2 separate regions of the Homo sapiens genome follow, and region 2 is linked to region 1. A link means that fine-mapping ties the variant in region 1 to the expression of a gene that starts in the linked region. Tissue or cell type: cerebellum. Region 1 holds a variant in brackets; the other region holds the start of a gene. All regions are shown on one strand. Distances are from middle to middle.

Evidence for each region. PIP is the estimated chance that this variant, and not a neighbour inherited with it, causes the effect.
Region 2: it holds the start of RASSF8-AS1, and the variant in region 1 is fine-mapped to the expression of RASSF8-AS1 in cerebellum (GTEx, PIP 0.99).

The regions. Positions count from the first base shown.
Region 1 is chr12:25,895,456-25,905,713 of GRCh38, forward strand. No RefSeq gene overlaps it. Among named protein-coding and RNA genes, the nearest start is that of MIR4302, 27 kb to the left of the region's middle. RefSeq lists an enhancer at 3,740-3,909. The variant A/G (reference allele first, on the strand shown) is at 4,082.
Region 2 is chr12:25,953,943-25,964,200 of GRCh38, forward strand. It overlaps RASSF8-AS1 (RASSF8 antisense RNA 1), which reads right to left and starts at 5,500. Exons shown (of 4, transcript NR_038228.1): 1 at 5,384-5,500; 2 at 2,697-2,822; 3 at 2,285-2,405; 4 at 712-1,299. RASSF8 (Ras association domain family member 8) reads left to right here and starts at 4,740. Exons shown (of 6, transcript NM_001394098.1): 1 at 4,740-5,206. RefSeq lists silencers at 4,352-4,841, 4,942-5,041, 5,112-5,161, 5,302-5,351.

The DNA of each region.
Region 1 (10,258 bases):
TTGAAATGTAGGACCTTTAACAAGAAAGTCTTTGGGTTAAAATATAATGAGTTTAGTCCTGAGATATCTGTGTGACATCCCAGAATAAAAATACCCTAGTAGCCAGTGCAGTATGCATGGGTGGGGCCAGGGGCTGGGTGGGATTTGGAGGTAGATACTCAACTGATAGCAGTTAAAGCAGAATGAACAGAGAGAGAAGGGACTGACAACAGAACCCTGGAGAATACATGTTTAAGGGATACAGAAGTAGAAAGTGTGTCAACCAGCCAATGTGGGAGATGACAGGGAGAGAGCTAGGGAAGAGTAGGAAGATTCTTGAGTAGCACTGAGCCTGGCCTGCAACGGAAAGCTTACAATTTTGTAGAGAGTCTATCCATATATTTGTATGAGTTTATATAGCAATTTAGGTGACCCATAAGGATGCGTGAATTGAACCATGGTAGGGAGTTTGCTGTACATGTAAGTCAGGAGGAAACCGTGTCAAGACATTTGAGGGTGCTAGTGAGATAGCAGTTGAATTTAGATTGTGTAAGGAAGGATGCTGAAGAAATCAGGTGTTCTAGGGATAAGTGAAGGAGCTGGAGCTCTTGATGGTGTTCAAAAGCAAGTATTGTGGTAAAGACATGAAAGAACTGGAAAGATAGGCAGGTGTGGTCAGAGGATGAAATCTGGAATTTAAGATTCCAGAGGCTTAGCTGTTCCAGACAGTGACAAGGTTTAGGGCCTGGCTTTCTAAGTGTAGCAGAGCTGAAGGCCATTAGAGTAGGAAAGCTCTGTAAGCTCCCATAGCACAGAATCATATCTTGAATGTGCATTACATATTTCCTAGCAGTGCCAAGCACAGATGGATTTTCTTTTTGTCGTACAAACAATATGACTACATTTTGGAAAATAGAGGGGGAGGACTATTCACATTCCCACCACCTACACAACTCATGCTCTCAATTGATGTATCTCCTTCCACATGATGCATATAGCTGCATCCATAACTTATATATGATCATCTATTCTTTTATCTTATTTTATTTTTTTTGGGACAGAGTCTCACTCTTGTTGCCCAGGCTGGAGTGCAATGGCAGTATCTCGGCCCACTGCAACGTCCACCTCCCAGGTTCAAGCAATTCTCCTGTCTCAGCCTCCTGAATAGCTGGGATTACAGGCATGTGCCACCATGCCCGGCTAATTTTGTATTTTTAGCAGAGACAGGTTTCTCCATGTTGGTCAGGCTGGTCTCGAACTCCCAACCTCAGTTGATCCACCCACCTCAGCCTCCCAAAGTGCTGGAATTACATGCATGAGCCACCATGCCCGGCATATTATTTTATTTTAAATTAACATTATAATGTAAGCATTTTCCACGTTATAACGAACCTGCCTTTGCAAAATCGTACAGTAAAAGAAACTTGACATAGTGGACTCCATCTTGCTTCTGACCTTCACACTATTCTTGGTCATTCCTGGGTGTGGTCCAAGCTAACTTTAAGAGGAATTTATTTTATAGTTTAACCTTAAACCAAGGGTTATGATAGCCCTTCCCAAAACTAAACCATTTTTGTAAAACTAATGAAAGGCCACAAGGATAAAATTATCCAAGGGGCTTGAACTCTGCTAAAATGTAGATGTAGTTTGTGTAATCCCTTACTGCTCAGGAGTCCTGTTGCCAGAGGTCACAAGATTTGTGACTTCCCCAATTGTTCCTATAAATAACATCACTATTGTAGAACCTAAAATTGGTTTTTTGCAAGACGTTTTTCAGACTGCCTTCACCCAGATTTATGACTCATGACTCAATCGATCCTGTGGCCCCATCCAGAGGCAGACTCAGTGCATGAGGACCATTTTTCCACACCCCTGTGATATCAGCCCCTACCAATCAGTAGCACCCATTCCCTAGCCCCCTGCTCACAAAATCACCCATAAACACCCCTAACTTCTGAGCCTTCAGGGAGACTGATTTGTGTGGTAACTCCAGTTTTCCTGTATGGGATGGCCTCATTTCAATTAAACTCTCTCTACTGAAATGCCTTGATTTCAATGGATTGATTTTTTCTGTGTAGTGGTCAAGAAGAACCCATAGATAATTACAATATAGATTAATTGTTGGGTTCTGGATAAGTGGGGTTTTTATTGGGGGGGAGTTGTTTGTTTTTGAGACAGAGTCTCACTCCATCACCCAGGCTGGAGTGCAGTGGCCTGATCTCAGCTCACTGCAACCTCTGCCTCCGGGTTCAAGGGATTTTCCTGCCTTAGCCTCCCAAGTAACTGGAATTACAGGTACCCACCACCACATCCAGCTAACTTTTGTATTTTTAGTAGAGACGGGGTCTTACCAGTTTGGCCAGGCTGGTCTCGATCTCCTGACCTCAACTGATCCACCCACCTGGGCCTCCCAAAGTGGTGGGATTACAGGTGTGAGCCACTGCACCCAGCCCTTTTGATAAGTATTTTAAATAAAAATTTTGGAATACTATAGATTACTGATGACGATCCTCATTTTTGTGAAACTAAAGAAGAACACTGTGAAACTTCAACCAAATTATCAGGAATAAATAGGGACATCACTCATTTTTGTCTCACTGTTAGAGATGCATGGTCTTCTGACTTCTTTTATCTTGTTGTTGCATATGTTGCTCTTATCTTTTTTACTAACTGCATTCCTCTATCCTTTGAAGTTAGGAATATTATAAAGTTGTTTGGAGTACAAATCAAGGTCTGTAGCTGGTAAGTGCAAAGATGACACTGAATCTGTCTTCCTCCAGGACCAGGGGCTTCCCCTTAGAGGAGTGCTAAGAAGATACTCAGTATATCCTTACCCCAGCCACAAGATAGTACAGTTCTAAAATTTCGTTCAGTTCTCATTTCTCTAGCTGGGGTCAAAGAACATCTCTTGTCTTTTTCTGGGTTGGAAAGATTTAAGTTTCCTAAAAGACTGGCTGATTTAGTGGAACAATCATTCATTGTATCCTATTGCTAAACCTCTGCAGTCTTCTCTAGCAAGAATGAATTCAAAAACATACAAAGAAAAATTCTCATTGTTCAAATTAGAATTAAAGATGCAACAAATTTGCAAAAACCAAAACACACACTTAGGAATCTTTTTCTTCTCTTTCTTTTCTTTTCTTTTTCTTTCTTTCTTTCTTTTTTTTTTATAAGACACAGTCTCACTCACTCACTCTGTCACCCAGGATGGAGTACAGTGGCACCATCTCGACTCACTGCAACTTCTGCCTCCTGTTTATGCAATTCTCCTGCCTCAGCCTCCTGAATAGCTGGGATTACAGGTGTGCACCACCATGCCTGGCTAATTTTTGTATTATTAGTAGAGACAGGGTTTGCCATGTTGGCCAGGCTGGTTTTGAACTCCTGACCTTAAGTGATCCACCTGCTTCAACCTCCTGAAGTTCTGGGATTACAGGCATGAGCCACCATGCCTGGCACACTTAGGAATCTTGAACCCCTGTTTTTGATGGTGAGCTCTGTATTAATAAGAGTTGATAAGAACATGATCTTGATCTGTGATGTAGAGAATTTCAAAAATGTTATTTGAAACACTTAAAGACCCATCGATTAATCATAAAAGGTATGGGTGATTGCTTTTGAAAAAATACTTACAATGTTCAATTGAAAGGATAGATATTCACATATAAACTGTGGTTACAGCTATGTACATCATGTGGAAGGCAACACAACCAATTGAGAACATGAGTTGTGTAGGTGGTGGGAATGTGAGTAATTCTCCCCCTTTATTTTCCAAAATGTAGTTATAGTGTTAGTACAACAACAACAAAAAAAATCCATCTGTGCTTGGCACTGCTAGGAAATACGTAAAGTACATTCAAGATATAATTCTGTGCTATGGAAGCTTATAGATCTTTCCAGTCTAATGACCTTCAGCTCTGCTGAACTTCAAGAGCCCTAAATCTTGCCACTCTCTGGAACAGATAAGCCTCTGGAATTTTAAATTCCATATTTCACCTTCAGATCATAGCTGCCAATTTCTCTCATTGTTTAATGCCTCTACCACAATACTTGTCTTCTAACAACATCAACAGCTCTAGTTTCTTAATCTCCAGAGGACTGC[A/G]ACTCCAGCTCACAGTCTCACTTAGTCCTAGAGTGCCTGATTTCTCCTACCTGGACATCTCCAGATCCTTGACTCATCAATCCTATCTAGGATGGCTGATATAACCCCTTTTCATATTTCCTTGTCTCAATTCCAAATCATAGATTTGGAAGCATTATATTGGGAGACTCGTTATATTGGGAGAATATCTTGTGGGTATAGCAAGAGAACCCCATTAGAAGGCAACATTAACTACTACTTATGGCAGAGAGTGGCAATGCCAATCCTATATTCTTATTTCTTCTTCCTCACTAATCAAATCCGATCTTCTTTAGTTTGACAATATGCTCTCTAAAGATTACATTGATCAGACTCCCTACAAAAAAGGTGACCAATGAGAAGTATGCAGTGGTCAAGTGGGTAGCTTTTCCTGAAAGCTCCTTAAAGGGAGCTGACTCATCTGTGCTCTTCTTGCCCTTTACCCTTTCTTCCCCCTTCACGTCTTTAGCTGAGGTATAATGACTGGAGCTTCAGCAGCAATTTTACAACCAAAAGGAAACCTTACGTAGGTCCCTGCCTTCTGAGAATAGTGGAGCAAAAACCTAGATGCAGCCTGGGGACATGGACGATGTTGCATAATTACTACATAGTCCCCAGCTTCCTGCTTTCAGACTATTTTTTTAATGTGAAATAAAATAACCTCTATGTTTTTAAAGTCATTCTTATCAGGTAATTGTTACTAATAATTTGGTGATTCCTAATTGTCACACAACTTAGTTCACTCATTGATTACCAAGTATTTGCTGACTGTTGTCATGAGTTTGGCATTATGTTACAAGTTTGGGTAAAAACAAAAAAAGTATAAGAATAGTTTTAGAGTACAAATAAATCCTTATTTCTTCTATTAAGAAAATGACTTTTTTGTTGTTGTTGTTTGTTTTTTGAGACAAAGTATCGCTCTGTTGCCCAGGCTGAGTGCAGTGGCTCAATCTCGGCTCACTACAACCTCTGCCTCACAGGTTCAAGCGACTCTCCTGCCTCAGCCTCCTGAGTAGCTGGGAATACAGGCACCTGCCACCATGCCTAGCTAATTTTTGTATTTTCAGTGGAGATACGATTTTGCCATGTTGGCCAGGCTGGTCTCGAACTCCTGGCCTCAAGTGATCCATCTGCCTCAGCTTCCCAAACTGCTGGGATTACAGGCGTGAGCCACCACACCTGGTTTAAGAAAAGGTATGCTTTTTAAAGATCATAATGAAGTTCATGGTAATCTATGATTTTTTTCATTTACTAAAATGTATAGGCAATAAGCACTATGGGCTATCAAAGATGACAAAGGTGGGAGGTGGGATGTAGTGATTGAGAAAAAAGGTGACAATTGAGTTGAACCTGAAAGGAAGGAGAAGAATGGCGGGAAGAGTTAAACCATTTCTTCTCGTGCCCAGAGGAAAATCATGCACAATGAACCAGAAAGAATAATAAAAAGCTTGCCAGATGCAGTGGCCCATGCCTCTAATCCCTGCACTTTGGGAAGCCAAGGCAGGCAGATCGCTTGAGGACAGGAGTTCAAGACCAGCCTGGGCAACATAGTGAGACCCCATCTCTACAGAAAAATTTAAAATTTTTTTCAAGGTATGGTGGCACACACCTGTAGTCCCAGCTACTGGTGCCACTACACTCCAGCCTGGGCAACGGAGTGAGAACTTGTCTTTCTCTCTCTCTCTCTTTTTTTTTTTTTTTTTTGGTCTTTTTACCTGCAGTTTCTTTGGGTATGAGAGACCCTATCTCTTAAAAATAAATAAATAAAATAAACCTTACATTTAGGAGATACTAAGGACTGTAGCCTGGCTGGACTAATTCTGTTGTGTGTCCTTAAGTAAGACAGTCAGCCTCTTTGTTCTGGAGGTTCTCCCTTTCAAAACCACTACATATTAGGCAGGGTGCAGTGGCTCATGCCTGTAATCCCAGCATTTTGGGAGGCCAAAGCAGGTGGAACACTTGAGGTCAGAGTTCGAGACCAGCCTGGCCAACGTGGTGAAACCGTATCTCTACTAAAAATACAAAAATTAGCCAGGTGTGGTGGGGTACACTTGTAGTCCCAGCTACTCAGGAGGCCGAGACAGGAGAATTGCTTGTACGTGGGAGGCGGAAGTTGCAGTGAGTCAAGATTGTGCCACTGCCCTCCAACCTGGGTGACAGAGAGAGACTCCATCTCAAAAACAAAAAACAAAAGCAAAAAAACAAAACAAAACAAAACAAAAAACACCACGTGTTTATAGCATGCTTGGAGACTGTCAGCTGAACTCTGTACAACAGTCAGTGACCCTGGAGTTTTATTATACAACATCAACCTTTCTTCATAAGAATGTTACCAGAATAACAACTTTATGTGAGATAAATGTTTCACAGCCCTTTGTCTTCATATCCCAAGTTGTCTGCCAATGCCTATGGCTCTTATGCTGAATGAAATTGCTCTGTGTGATGTGTACGTTTTTGGGTTCCTCTTGATACAGTGGGAAGTGCCTGTGGCTTCCTTTGCTCAGTAAGTGTGTCTTACTATGTTTTTGTCCTGCTATGCTATATCCATGAATGTATTATGTTGTCACTAAGAGTTTTCTTATAATATTTTACCAATGTCATAACCAAATCTTCCTGTGGTCACTGTTCAGAAAGCTACACTGGCTGTTTAGTCATTTAAGTTACTCAAGGACAATATTTAACCATCTGTGTACCACTGAGGTAAAAAAAAAACAAACAAAAAACAAAACAAACAAACCAAAAAAAAATCTGACTACAGTAAAAACATTTCTATTTCTCCCTTTTCCCTCCAATTCAGATCTTAACATTTCTCAGCCTTCAGTTAACTGGCCCTTCTTCAGTCTTTTCCCATAACTCAGTTCCTCTCTCCACAAGTCTTTTCTTTTCTTTTTTTTTTTTTTTTTGAGATGGAGTTTTGCCTTGTCACCCAGGCTGGAGTGCAGTGGTGCGATCTCGGCTCACTGCAAGCTCCGCCTCCCAGGTTCAAGCGATTCTCCTGCCTCAGCCTCCTGAGTAGCTGGGACTACAGGTGCCTGCCACCACACCCAGCTAATTTTTTTGTATTTTTAGTAGAGACAGGGTTTCACTGTGTTAGCCAGGATGGTCTCCATCTCCTGACCTCATGATCCGCCTGCCTCAGCCTCCCAAAGTGCTGGGATTACAGGTGTGAGCCACCACACCTGGCAAGAGAGTACACATTTTTATCCATTCTTCCTCCAAGATAAGGACTTACTGCCCTTGCCCCTGCTTTGTTTTTGCTCCCAACCTGGGAGCTGGTGGCAAAGATTAGGGTCCTTCTCTAAGGCAAAAGCATCAAAGCCAAACCTTTTCACAATGAGGACCAATCCTTTAGGTAATGGCATTCCCTTTAGAAGGCTCTATTAAAATAGCAGCATGAAAGTGTCTTAAATCTTTGGATTACCAGCTTTAAGTTCACCAGCTTTCACTTTAGGTGTGGTGGAAAAATCCTATAAAGAACATTTAAAGGCAAATGTATTTCAGTTTGGACCATGACATTATGCAATTGTACATCGCATGTTCTTATTCCAGATCTTCAAACAGATGAAAAGTTAACTATTGTATTTTGATTGAAGCCCAGACCAGCTGTGAGAGGAAAATTTACCACTTTCTACCAGGAAGATTAGAGGCTGTTCCTAGCAAGGCAAAAACCAGTTATTAAAGTTTTCTCATTAAATAAAGACCATGTGTGTTACTGTGGGTGTGTAAACAATGAGTGCCTGCCATCCCACACAGGATACACAAGGTGGACTGCAGGAGAATGCGAGCAGGGCAGAGGAAAGTCCTATTTATCCACACGTAAATTCATTTTCCTGACTTTCAGGGCTAACATCTGCCCCAAAACTCCCCAAATGAAACTCAAGGAGCTTCAAACCCCTTTTTAAATATTTTCACAAAGTCTATATGGATTTGGGATGTGAAAAGAGTGCTTAAATGTTCTTGTTCTATCATTTACTGGCTGTGGGTCATGAGCAATTCACTGAAACTCTTTGAACAACAATTTCCTCATCTATAAAACAGGGTGAATAATACCTACCATGGAGGGTATCAGGATGTTTAGCAATAATATGCATAAAGTGTCTGGTGTGTAGGAGACTTTTAATACATGATCAGTGTTGCTATAAATATAACACATCTTCATGTTTCTCCCAAAACACACACACATGCAAACATGGCAAGGGGGTGGAGGAGAGAGAGGAAGAGGGAGAGACAGGCAGACAGAGAGAGAATGATGCGATAAGTCTATGCTGTTGAGTAAGAGGAGGCCTATAGAAGCATGTTTTTATTGCTTTCTCATTTCACCATTTCAGGTATAATATAGAGCTTCTCTGAGCTATGGCTTTTATATCAAGAGTCAGCTTCCATTCCAAGGGACATATTAATATCTGAGAGAGTGAGCAAAAAAAAAAAAATGTTCTTTGAGGGAGGGAGAGAGAGAGAGCAATTGCTCATCAGTCATATCATCACTGAGGGACTGACCAATCTGAATCCACCCAGCTGAGCTACCCGTGCAAATTTTTGCAAGAGCCTTAGTAATCCAGCCATAGAATGAAAAGAAGTGGGATGTGGAAGGGGAGGCAACAGGTGAGCAGTTCCTTTCATTCCTTCCAAGGCAGAGAAACATTGCAGAGAAACAAAGTAGGGACTCCTTTCTTAAAATACTCTCTTCCATGCCTCTCATTTCATCCTGACTTTGCGGGTCTACAGTAGATATATGGTGCATTGCCCAGATGCCCTCTTTATGGCTAGGGTTCTTTTTTAATTTAATTTTTTTATTTATAGACAGAATCTCACTCTGTCACCCAGGCTGGAGTACAGTGGTGCAATCATAGATCACTGCAGCCTCGAACTCTCGGGCTCAAGGGATCCTCTCACCTCAGCCTCCTGAGTAGCTGGGACCACAGACACACACCATAATGCCCGGCTAATTTTTTCTATTTTTCTTTTTGTAGAGATGGGGGCCTTGCTATGTTGCCCAGACTAGGGCTGAAGTTCTTATTCCCTTCACTGCTGGAAGAGTTGCCTCCTGATGACTCACCACTAACTCCTTCCTCAGAAATTGCTCTCAGTCAAAGGCAGCTGCCTTGCTCTCCTAGGGCAGCCAGCATCCAGTGACTCCTAGAGATGAGGGTACAAACACCCTGCACCCTTGCCTCAATTCAGGATGGGCCATTCCAGATCTAGAGCTCCCCAGGGGATCTGCTAAGGCCTCCATTGCAACAGCATCATGGTTCAGGCCTCTCCTCTGAATGGATGCTGGTCCTTCCTGATTCCTCCACTCCTTAATAGATGTTCTTGGGAGTTCTCCTTGGTTAATCTCCTGCATGCAAATCTCCATCTCAGAGGCTATGTCAAGGTAACAGCCTACAACAGTGGCCTTAGACAGTAACAAGCAGAGTCTGGTAGGTGCTGGTGAAGCTCATGACAGCCCACTCATCATGTGCTGAGCTGCTCAGGAAGACCTGGAGGGGACAGGTGTGCTGGGAAACCTGCATAGAGGTAGCCCAATGGATGGGTTAAGTCACTGGGCTCTGGAGCTGGCTGCCTGTGTGAAACCTAACTCTGACACTTGCTGGTTATATGGTCTTGAGCAAATCCCTTAATCACTGTGTGATTTAGTGTCCTTCTCTATAAACTGAGCGTAATAATAGGACCTACCTCATAACTTTATTGGGAGGATTAAATTAACTGAGTCAATATGTGTAAAGCATTGAGATTGGTTTTGGTGCATGGTATACACTCAGTAATGATAGCTATCATGAAACATTTGGATAATCCATGTAAGTATCTGTTATTTGGGAATACCCAGGTTCTTAGAGCACTTAAATTAGTTGTACATTTTAATCCCAGTTGTTCAAGATAGTAAATTCCTTGAGGGTAAAGATAATATTAGTTAATAATTAGATAAACACATTCATACATTTATACACATCTATGTATATAAATGTACGTGTGTGTGGAGTATGTGTATGTGTCAAGCTGTCTATCTACATTTATATTTGTGCAAGGATATCAGAGAAGCAGAGATTGTAATGACCCTGGACAGAGTAGCTGGAAAGGAAGAGCACTGCTCTATTGGACTATCCAGGTGTCTGCATTCTCCCCTCTGGCTCTAATCTTTCATATTGAGAAGGCTTCTCT
Region 2 (10,258 bases), 58 kb after region 1:
ACTGGCGGTTTCTATCTGACCCAGTCAGATAACCGAGGCATCTAACTGGATCCAAGCCAGTTAATTATCAGATCCAATCAAATCCTGGACCCAGTCCAATGTCTATCGACTTCCAAACTCAGCTAAGATCAAAAATTTGCTCAAGCAAGCTTGAACAGCTGAAAACGGCAATGTATGGAGCTTCAGAATCTGAGAGAGAATGCAGCCACAATCTCCAGTTGCTGTAAGAGAGCAGTGGACACTGCGAGAGGACGGGCCCAGCAGGTACCCCTTGTGGTCACTCAGTGCTCCTGGGGGATCACTGGGAGCTCTACTTTGGGGTCCATTTCTGACACCATCTGTTAAAAGAAAAACTTCAGACAAATTAAATTTAGCAGAGCTCAATTGAACAAAGAATGACTTGTGAATCAGACAGACCCCTGAACCAGGATAGCTTTGGAGTGACTCCAGTGCTGCTGAGTGGTTGGAGAGAATTTATGGACAAAAAAGGAAAGTGACCTAAGAAAACAGAAGTAAGGTATAGAAACAGCTGGATTAGTTACACCATGACATTTCCCTTATTTGAGCATGGTTTGAACAGTTGGCCACCTCTGATTGGCTGAAACTTGGTGACTGGTACAAGAGTAGGTTACAATCTGTTTAATCATTGGGTTATAGTTCACTATGTATGAAGAACCTTTAGGTTAAACTTAAAATATTGAAGGAGGCAGCTTTAGGGTAAATTTAACACTAGGAAGCTGTAAGTAGTTTATTATGGGTGATACACAGAGTCGGGCAAGAAGGGGGGCAGAGGTGGAAAGACGGGTGAGACCAGGTAATAAAGAATCTTATGTTATATTCATAAGTCCATAATTTATTCCTGCCAGCACCACATACCTATTTGTTTAAAAATTTCATTTCCATAGCCCCCCTAGACTTCCTCATGAAGGAATTTCCTAAGACTTTGACCTTGATGAATTCTGATTCATTGACAATCCCTTCTTTATTTTCTTATTTTTATTTTTTCACTTTCTTATGGTCCTGAGACCACTCCTTTCTGAGTACAAGCATCTTGGCTGGCCTAGAATATAGTCACAACTGTGTTCCACGGACTTTACTGAAGGTGGAAACAACTGTCTTCCCAGCATCCCATCTGTACTGGTCCATTTGCATTGCTATAAAGGCAATTTATAATTCACAGTTTATTATGGCTCACAGTTCTGCAGGCTTATAGGAAGCATGGGACGAGCATCTGCTCCTGGTGAGGCCTCAGGGAGCTTCCAAACATGGTGGAAGGCAAAGGTGGAGTTGGCATATCACCTGGCAAGAACAGGAGCAAGAGAGAGAGGAGGAAGATCACAGACTCTTTTAAACATCCAGATCTTTCATGAACTCATTACTGCAGGGAAGGTACATAGCCACACAAGAGATTCCCCATCACCCAAATACCTTCCACTAGGTCCAACTCCAACATGGCGGTCACATTTCAACACGAAATTTGGAGGGAAAAAACATCCAAACAATATCACCATCTTACAGGCTGGTGTTGTCTGGTGGGCTGTTTGGGAAATACTGGTCTAGACACATTTCTCAAACTTGGCAATATGACTCCACTGGACATTAAAAAGGGATTTCCAGGTATTTCAAGATAAAGGGATTTATTCTCAGGAGCTGCAAACATAAGCTAGGTTTTCTTACAGTGTTAACATCTTGGTTTCAGTTACACGGGTCACCAGATTGATACAGATTTAGCTGAGGTAATAAATCACTGCTTCAGCAATCTTAACAGTCAAGTCAGTTATCTAACGATGATTTGACAAGTAATGAGGTCACCTGCCATTTCCTCCCATAAGTAATTCAACTGCATTTAGTTCATAATACATATGGCTAGAAAAGCATCTAAATCAATTCCTACGATCAGAGAGAGAGATGTCCCCATCACCATGAAGCAGAAGTTACAAAGAAATGGGGGAAGATGCTATGCAGTTGGCCTTAAACATAGAGAAAGGGACTATAAGCCAAGGAATGCAGGTGGCATCTAGAGGCTGAAAAGGGCAAGGAAATGGATTCTCCCCTCGATCCTCCAGAAGGAACACAGCCCACACTTTGATTTTAGATTTCTGACCTCCAGGTCTATAAGATGATCAATTCATCTCTCGATATGGCCTCCTCCTGTTCATTGCCACTGCTCTCCAGTTTAGACTCTCCCTTGGATCTGCCTCTTTTCTGAATCCATCCTCTCAAGTTGTTTTCTTAAAAATCAAATCTTATTATGTCACAGGGTTTGAAGTGCATGAATACTCACTGACTCTAGTTAGGCTCCTTTCCTGGAATATCATTAGAAACCAGAAGTAAGGGTTGTTTACAATTCCCATCAAGGACATTTGGTGTGATCTCAGGAAGGCTTAACAGGGATGTGATTATAGCTACCAAAAAAAAAAAAAAGCTTAAAACAAATTGTACTACACTCTGAAGAAAGAACGCATTAACCAAATGGGCTAGGTAGGGTAAAGATTTTTCTGCACTTATCCAGCACTGAATGGAGGCAAATTCACTGACTTTGGCAGCCATCAGTAAGACTGGAGGTGAGGATACCTGGATTTTTAGGAAGGGTTTTTCCTAAATAGTAGGTATTGTTATCCAATCAGGAAGTTCTGTCCTGATATAAATGCTCATCATATAAGAGTTAGTTATCAAGAGTCAGTCAACTTGCTCACCTCTAGATGTGGTAATACTGAGGTCCAGATCCTCCTGGTGATCAACACAAACTGGATTAAGAGTCAGCTACTCAGTCAGATCCTGAATCCTGGTCCAACGATAACCACACTCTTGCCTGCTACCTGCTTCAAGAAGTACACAAAAGAGGGATCACTACCACAGCCAAAGAAAGGAGGAAAGTTTTTTTTTTTTTTTTTTTTTTTTTTTTGAGATGGAGTTTCGCTCTTGTTGCCCAGGCTGGGGTGCAATGGCGTGATCTCGGCTCACTGCAACCTCTGCCTCCCAGGTTCAAGCGATTCTCCTGCCTCAGCCTCCCAGTTGCTGGGATTGCAGGCATGTGCCACCATGCCCGGCTAATTTTGTATTTTTAGTAGAGACGGGGTTTCTCCATGTTGGTCAGGCTGGTCTCGAACTCCCAACCTCAGGCAATCTGCCAGCCTTGGCCTCCCAAAGTGCTGGGGTTATAGGCATGAGCCACCGCGCCCGGCCAAAAGGCAGAAAGTTCTAAGAAGGAGAGGTCAACATTGGCAAATGCCACAAAGGGCACAAGATGGGAATTAAATTTTTCCATTAGATTTGGCAATTAAGCAATGGCTGATGTTGTTCAGTGGAGTGAAAGGCTGAGAAGGGAATGAGAGGTTAGGAAACATTCACCTTAAGGCTAGGCAACTCCTTTGAAAAGAGTCAAGTAGGGTTAAGGGAGGATCCATGCCCTCCAGGTTGACTTTTAAATCATATTCCCTTTGGTTTTGCATTTGAATCACAGTGAACTTTCTCCTCTCCAAATGTTGATTTGACAAATTTGAGTCTTACCATGGCTCTCTTCTCAGTCCACCTGCAGGTCAAGGAACTAATGAGGTGTGGAGTAACTAAAGGTCAAAAAACAAGAGGAAGAAACAAAGGGCCAAAAAACCCCAAACCTTAAATCAGGTCCTGAGTCAGATACGCTGTAACAAATTCTGCTTCAAGTTTAATATTCTTGTTTTGATGATGTTTAAAAAAAGAAAAATAAAAGCAAGTGTCTGGAAAATTAAAAGGCGGGGTGGGGGGGGGCATTTTAATTGGAATGCTTTCTTGTATCTCATCCACTATCCGCACCCCATCGCCCTGCAAATTAATAGCTGTTGCGGAGTTGGGGTATGTGTGACCACAAAATCCAAAGGCTGAATTTTGCCCAGTGCCTGAGTAATTGCATGCCACACACAAAAAAACAGTAGAATATTGAAAACAACATACACATCTGTATTTCCATATGAAAGCACCCGTTTCCTTTCTTGATTATCTGCTATTTTTAAAGGGGTTGGGAGTGCAGCGGGGCGGGGGGATGAGGCGTTTTTTCTGAATACGAGCCCAGCTCTTTCTAAACTTTTGTTACTCACGTCCGTTTGATTCATTTGCTGTGTTTTTTCTTTCTTTCTTTTTTTTTTTCCCCTCTCCTGCCTCTGTCATTGCCTGCTGCTAAGAGGGACGCTGAATCACAGCCACTGCAGATGAAAAGCAATTCAAACCCAGTCCTTGGAGGGGGGATGGAACGGCTCTTTTTGATTTTTTTCCCCTCTGCAGAAAAAGCCTCCTACTTTCCGGGTGACCGTAGAGGGCAGTTTGACAAGTCTCAGCCCCGGGCGATGGAAGATTTTGCCCGTGGGACCGTCACGAGCCACCGGTCATCTCCCCGCGCCCGGCTTTCGGGTCCTCAGGCCTCGGTGCGTCGCGGGCCAGGCGACAGCGGGGGGGCGTCGCGGGCCGGGCGAGCGTGGCCCGGTGGGCCCGAGGGTCGCGCCGAGCTCCCCGCCGCTTTAAAAGCTCCCACAATGCAGCGCTGGCGTCCCAGTTCCGTTACGAGGTCTCTCCCGGCGCCGGCGAGCGGGCCAGGCGCGGGCGGGGCGCGGAGGAGCGGCGGCTGAAACCCGAGCGCCCGGCCGAGGGGGGCGCCCCCGCGCCGCTCCTCTCGCGCGCTCAGCCGCTGCCCGGCGAAGGGGCGGAGCCGCCTGGCCGCCCGGCCCGGCCCGGCCCGGCCCGGCCCCCAGCCCGGCCCCCAGCCCAGAGGCACCGGCCGCGGGAGCGAGCGGGTCGCCGACTCCTACGCCCGCGCTCCTCCTACGCCCGCGCTCGTCCGGCGCCCCGCGCCGCGCCCCGCTCAGCGTCTGCCGCCCAGCTCCTCGCCCAGCCTCGCCGAGCCTCGCCCTTCCCGCCCGCGGCGGCGTTGGCGCTGGGGGCGGCTCCCGCGGCGTCTCTGCCGCTGGCCGAGCGCTCGCGCACCGCGGCACCCCCGCCAGTGGCGTCCACACTCACCTAGCGCGGGCCGGGAGGTGCGCGGAGAGGGAACGCCGGGGGGCCGGGGCCTCCAGCCGGTGCGGGGCGCGCGGCGCGGGGAGCGCCGGGGAGTGCCGGGGAGTGCGGCGCGGGGACGGGCGCTGGGCGGCCGCGGAGCTCCGGGTGCCGCCGCGTCCCCAGCGCCCCGGCCGGCCCCTCTGGGCGGCCTGCGGGGGCGGCGCAGTTGCGAAACTGAGTAAGTATTAACTTTACTTAGCGGCGGCGATCCGGGCTGCGCCGGGGACCCCGCCCGTCCCGCCTGCAGCCTCGGAGCTGCCCTCCGCCCGGTTGCCCCTCTCTCCGCACCTTGGGTACCTCGTCCGTTCCGCCCCCACCCTGCCCCGCCGCGGGCTCCCGCTCCCTCTGCGTTCACCTTTCCTGGTGTGTCACCCTTTGCGCCTCTCCTCGCGGCACACAAGCCGCGGACTGAAAAGTACGAGCTTGGTCTTTGCTTTTCTGCTTCCTCCCAGTGTCCTTGGCAAGGGAGTTTAGAGGCCACTTTTCTTGCAAAGGGAATTTTATGTCTGGTTTTTAAAATATTTTTTCCTCCGGATGGAAATCGGATGCTCGCTTGCCGGGTGGCGGTTTGGTGAACGCTTTTCTCCTCTAAAAAAATATTGGTTTATAGGTTTTTAAATTTCATTTGAACTATTAACCATCTGCATTCTATTCTCCTTTGCCGCCAGTCCCTTTGGGGAGGGGAGTCCAGAAGAGGGGACGTTCAAAGTAATTCTGACTTGCAAACTAGAAAGTTTGAGAGGGTAAATCGCACAAAGCCGGAAGATTCAACTTGAAGGGACGCGAGCTTTGAATGTGGGTCCTGGTGCGGCACTGGGTTTTAAAAGATGAGTACTTGGGTTCGGAATCCAGTGTTGCGTTGTTATTTTAGCATCATAGAGCCGCCTGGTGTTGCTAAACCACTACTTTCCCAGCCTCAAATGGCATCTTGAACAGTGCAACGTAGGATATATAATTGCGGGTCAATATTGTTGCTGATCTTTAGGGATTTAGAAGCGAAATGAATGCAAATCACGTCTCATAGCTGACTTAAACCTGTCAGGTTAGCCCTGTCAGGTTAGCATTAAAGCATTTCATTAAAAAAAAAAATCCTCTAGCCCTGTGACAGCAGGGACGAACATTTATGGATTTTCCAGTAGATTGTGGCTCAGCAATTCATTAGATCTGCTTTGTCCCCAGGAAGCATTTTAAAATATGTATAAATCTCTGCTTTTCTCTCCATTAGATTAACCACTCATTCTGGTAGGGGGCCCCAGGTAGTTTTTATTTTCTTTTTTGCCTTTCATCTTGGAGTTGCCAGGAGTTGCCATCATGTTATGAAGGAACAGAAAATGAGAAGCTTTCTTAATGGGTTTTCGACATCCTGTCCTTTGCCAGAGTGAGGCGGTAGTGAATGCCAGCCAGCTTTCTGCAGGGAGAGGTGCAGGGTGGACGCAAAAATCAGGACGCAGGAGACAGCACTATCATTTGGGGAAGTGGTTTGTGTGAGTTTTATCTTTTAGCGGGCATACTAATGGTACTTTTAATTTTATTTATCTCTATGAGGCACACTCCCCAAACCATAAAATTACACATGACCATCCCCCACTTGAAGAAGACTGAACATAGTTTGATGATTATTCTATTCAAGGATCAAGTACAACAAAATATAATTTGTAATACAGATGATAAAACCTTTCAAAAATCTCCCCCTTCCTCATTTTTTTCCTCAAGAGTCTCCAGGTGGTACTTTCTGTGATGGACACAATTGGCAGTAATGCACTGAGTTCTTTCTAGGTTTATTGATCAAATCTTATGTCTGGGCTTTAGTAGCTTAGGGGTGCATTAGAGGGCCCTGAGAGGGAGCAAATCATGGGGCTGTGCAGGCAGGAAAGGCACTTCACTTTGCAGAAGTGTCAGTGTGCTTCTGGAAAAAACAGTTACAAAGAACAGAGAGTGTTTAAGTTGTTTATAGGATGCATGTTTCCTGAATTTGGCATTTGGTTCAGATATTTGGTAATTACAGATTTAAAATTCGACATGGTTGTATAATTTGTTTTGCCTTTTATTTATTTTTTTAAGGTTGCAACCTTTTAACCTGAATCTTCAGTGTTTGGCTCTTGTAGGCTTCTATACGTGGTGACTTACGTCAGTTTTTGACCTGACTGCCTTGTGTTTTGAGAAATGATTAGTTCTTCAGGGTTTCTGACTCATTAATTGATCTGTTTTATGTTGATGTATATAATGACTTGGAAGTAAAAATATTGTTTGCCGTGGGATATTGTTGTCTTTTTCTTATGGTTAATTCCTGGCATAATGGCTTTGCTCCTTTATTATAAAACATTAAGATCTTAGATATCTTGCTAGTGTTCAAAACATTACAAAACTCTTTGCAAGTAAAAGTGGAGTGGGAATGGGAGTTGGATAGAAAAACATGCATCATAAATTAAAGATTTGGATTACAAAATAATATAACGTTTATTTACTCTTCTTTGATGCTAACTTGCTCTAACCCTAAATAGACTTAAAAATTCAAAGTGTAGAGAGAGTTTCCAAGTATTCTGTATAGTGGAAAGAATGTTTACCCCACTGCCAGCCAGACTTGGGTTGCACGTGTGACTTTGTCACTCCCGAGGTGAGTGAGCTCGGCCATGCCACTTCAGCCTCTGTGATCTACAGTTGCATTTCTGGAAAATGGGGATACCACTACTTAAAGGGATGCTATGGTGAGTAGAACATCTAATATATATTAGATGTGCCTGGCACATTTCAGCCAATAAATGACAACATCTCAAACTCCTTCAGAATTGAGCTCTTGGTCACTCAAACTTTCAAACTGTTCCCCCTCCATTTTTCATCTCATCCATCCAAGGAGTAGCTCACTCCACTCTCTCTTTTCTTCTATCAGCCCTAGCAAACCAGTCCATCATAAAGTCCTGCTGTCCATTTTTATTGCAAAATCTCTTTCAAACCGGTCTGATTTTCAGTCCCCACTATTCTGCCATCCTAATGCAAGCCACTGTACTGTATTATCTTTTTCCTTGGTGCGGTGCCTCCTGCACACACTCTGCACCCCTTGCAGTCTGTTTTACTACCAGCAGCCTGAAAAAAAAAAGAAAAAGTATTTGCCGTCTTAAAGTTGTCAGGGCTCTCAGGAAACACATTTATTTATTTTTGGGATAAGATACCAAATCCTTGACATTACTTCAGGATCCTGCATGATTTGATCTCTACATCCACTTGCATCTCTTGCTGTCATCTTGGCCAGTTCTCCAGCAGACTAGCCTCAGGCCTGTGGCTCATGCTGTTGGTCTCCCTATTTTAGGATCATCTCCTTGAGTAACTTATCATCCTTGGGTGCTAGCTCAAATGTCCTTTCTCATAAAGGTCTTCTCTGACAAGCCCACCCTTATCGTCATGCGAATTAAATGTCCTTTATTTTCTCCCTCATAGCGTAATCACTTTTGCTTCTGAATATTTACCACAATTTATATATTATTTAATCACTTAGGGTCCTTTTCTTGCCCTTTAGGTTAATATGAAGTTGATAATACCTGGTTTAATCACCAGTGCCCAGTATATGTAGTAGGTGCTCAATAAATATGTTGATATAATGAGTAAGATCGTAATATCAGTTTGTATCTTTATCTTTTTTTTTTGAAATGGAGTCTTACTATGTTGCCCAGTTGGTCTTAAACTCCTGGCCTCAAGTGATCCTCCTGCCTCAGCCTCCTGAGTAGCTGGGACTACAGGTGTGTGCCACCATGCCTGGCTTCTGTATTTGTATCTTGATTGCCTTCTTTATCACTGTTAAATTTGCTTTTCATGATAGAAAAGCCAGACCCACACTTTTCTATATTCCTTCTTTGCTGGTTATATGTATAATATGAAACGGCCTTTGCAAATATCAGGTAAAAATGCATGTAGGTTCTGTGAAATATTCGTAGTAATAAATTGAGACACCTTTTAATTAGTGTTACCCTTGTGACTTTCTGTTGTACATAATCCTTTTTCTAAATACATCATTAAAATAATTATTTTTTTATCAGCATAAGCTTACTGAAAGGAAAAAAAATCTTACTGTGCCTTACTATTTTACAGAGCGTCACATGATAACACGTTAGTCAGCTGCTGTCGGCTGGTGGTGCCAGACATCAAAGGAAGATTGGGAAAACTTTAGTAGAAAAACAAGACCTAGAGTTCTAAGGATGCTCAGTGCTGTCCAGCTGTTGATGTGACTTGCATGGTAACCAGACATCACTGGACCATACACTTAAGAGAGAGGAGGAGTTTTTTTTAAAAAAAGTGGGAGCCACCTAGAAGTCTGGAAGTTCTTTTCTTCTCTCTCACTAAAGCATTCCTTGTTTTAGCCAAAAAAAAAAAAAAAAAAAAAAGTCTCATGACCTTCCAAGGCCAAGGAAGGCTTACAGCTTTGAGTATTTTTGTCATGTGGTTGCTCTTTACGAAATATTAGCTTGATGTCCTCTAACTCTGAAGTACTTATGTCTGTTATTGATGTTTGTAATCTCTACTTCTTACATAATTCTGCATTTTTCTCTTGACTTGTTTTTTAGGACTTTAGTATTCCTTAAAAATCATTTCCTCACACCCTTAGAGTGTAGTTCTAGTTCTTTCTAGTTTTGTATCTTATAGATCACTGAGTGTGTGGGGGCACTTTGGAGCTGATTCAAGTCCTTCAGAACGTACTCCTCTGCAGTCCACCTCGGGGGTTCCCAAACTGTGATCCTTTGAGTGGTCTGGACCCTGAGGTTTCCGTAGCCTGGGTGCTCTTGGGTTGGGAGAGCAAGGAGGATGAAAGCAGCATTTTTGAGCCCCTGTTGGGTGCTCTCGAAGAGGAGGAGTGAGTAGTTTATCTGGTCAGAATTGGAAAAGTGAAGCTTAGGCTTTCTTTCCATATATTTGCTTCACAAAAGAAAATTGTTCCTTTTGTTCCTACATTTCCCCACTCCTGATTTTCTAGTCAGGAAGGCATGAGAAGAGAGAGATGCCCCTGCAAGCCAGACCCTTACCCTGGTGCTTATTTAGACCTGATTTTAAAAATGTTGAGAGCAAGCCCTGAGAGGGGCACACCAGGTGATTTGCCTCGTGTAGGCCCTCTGTGCCTGCAGGACATTCGCATCACGAGTAGCTGCCACTGTGGAGGAGAGGAAAGTTATGGTTGGGAACCCTTGTTATTTTTTTTCCACCATGTATATATGTCCACTGGTTACTTGGGTGACCTTGAACAAGT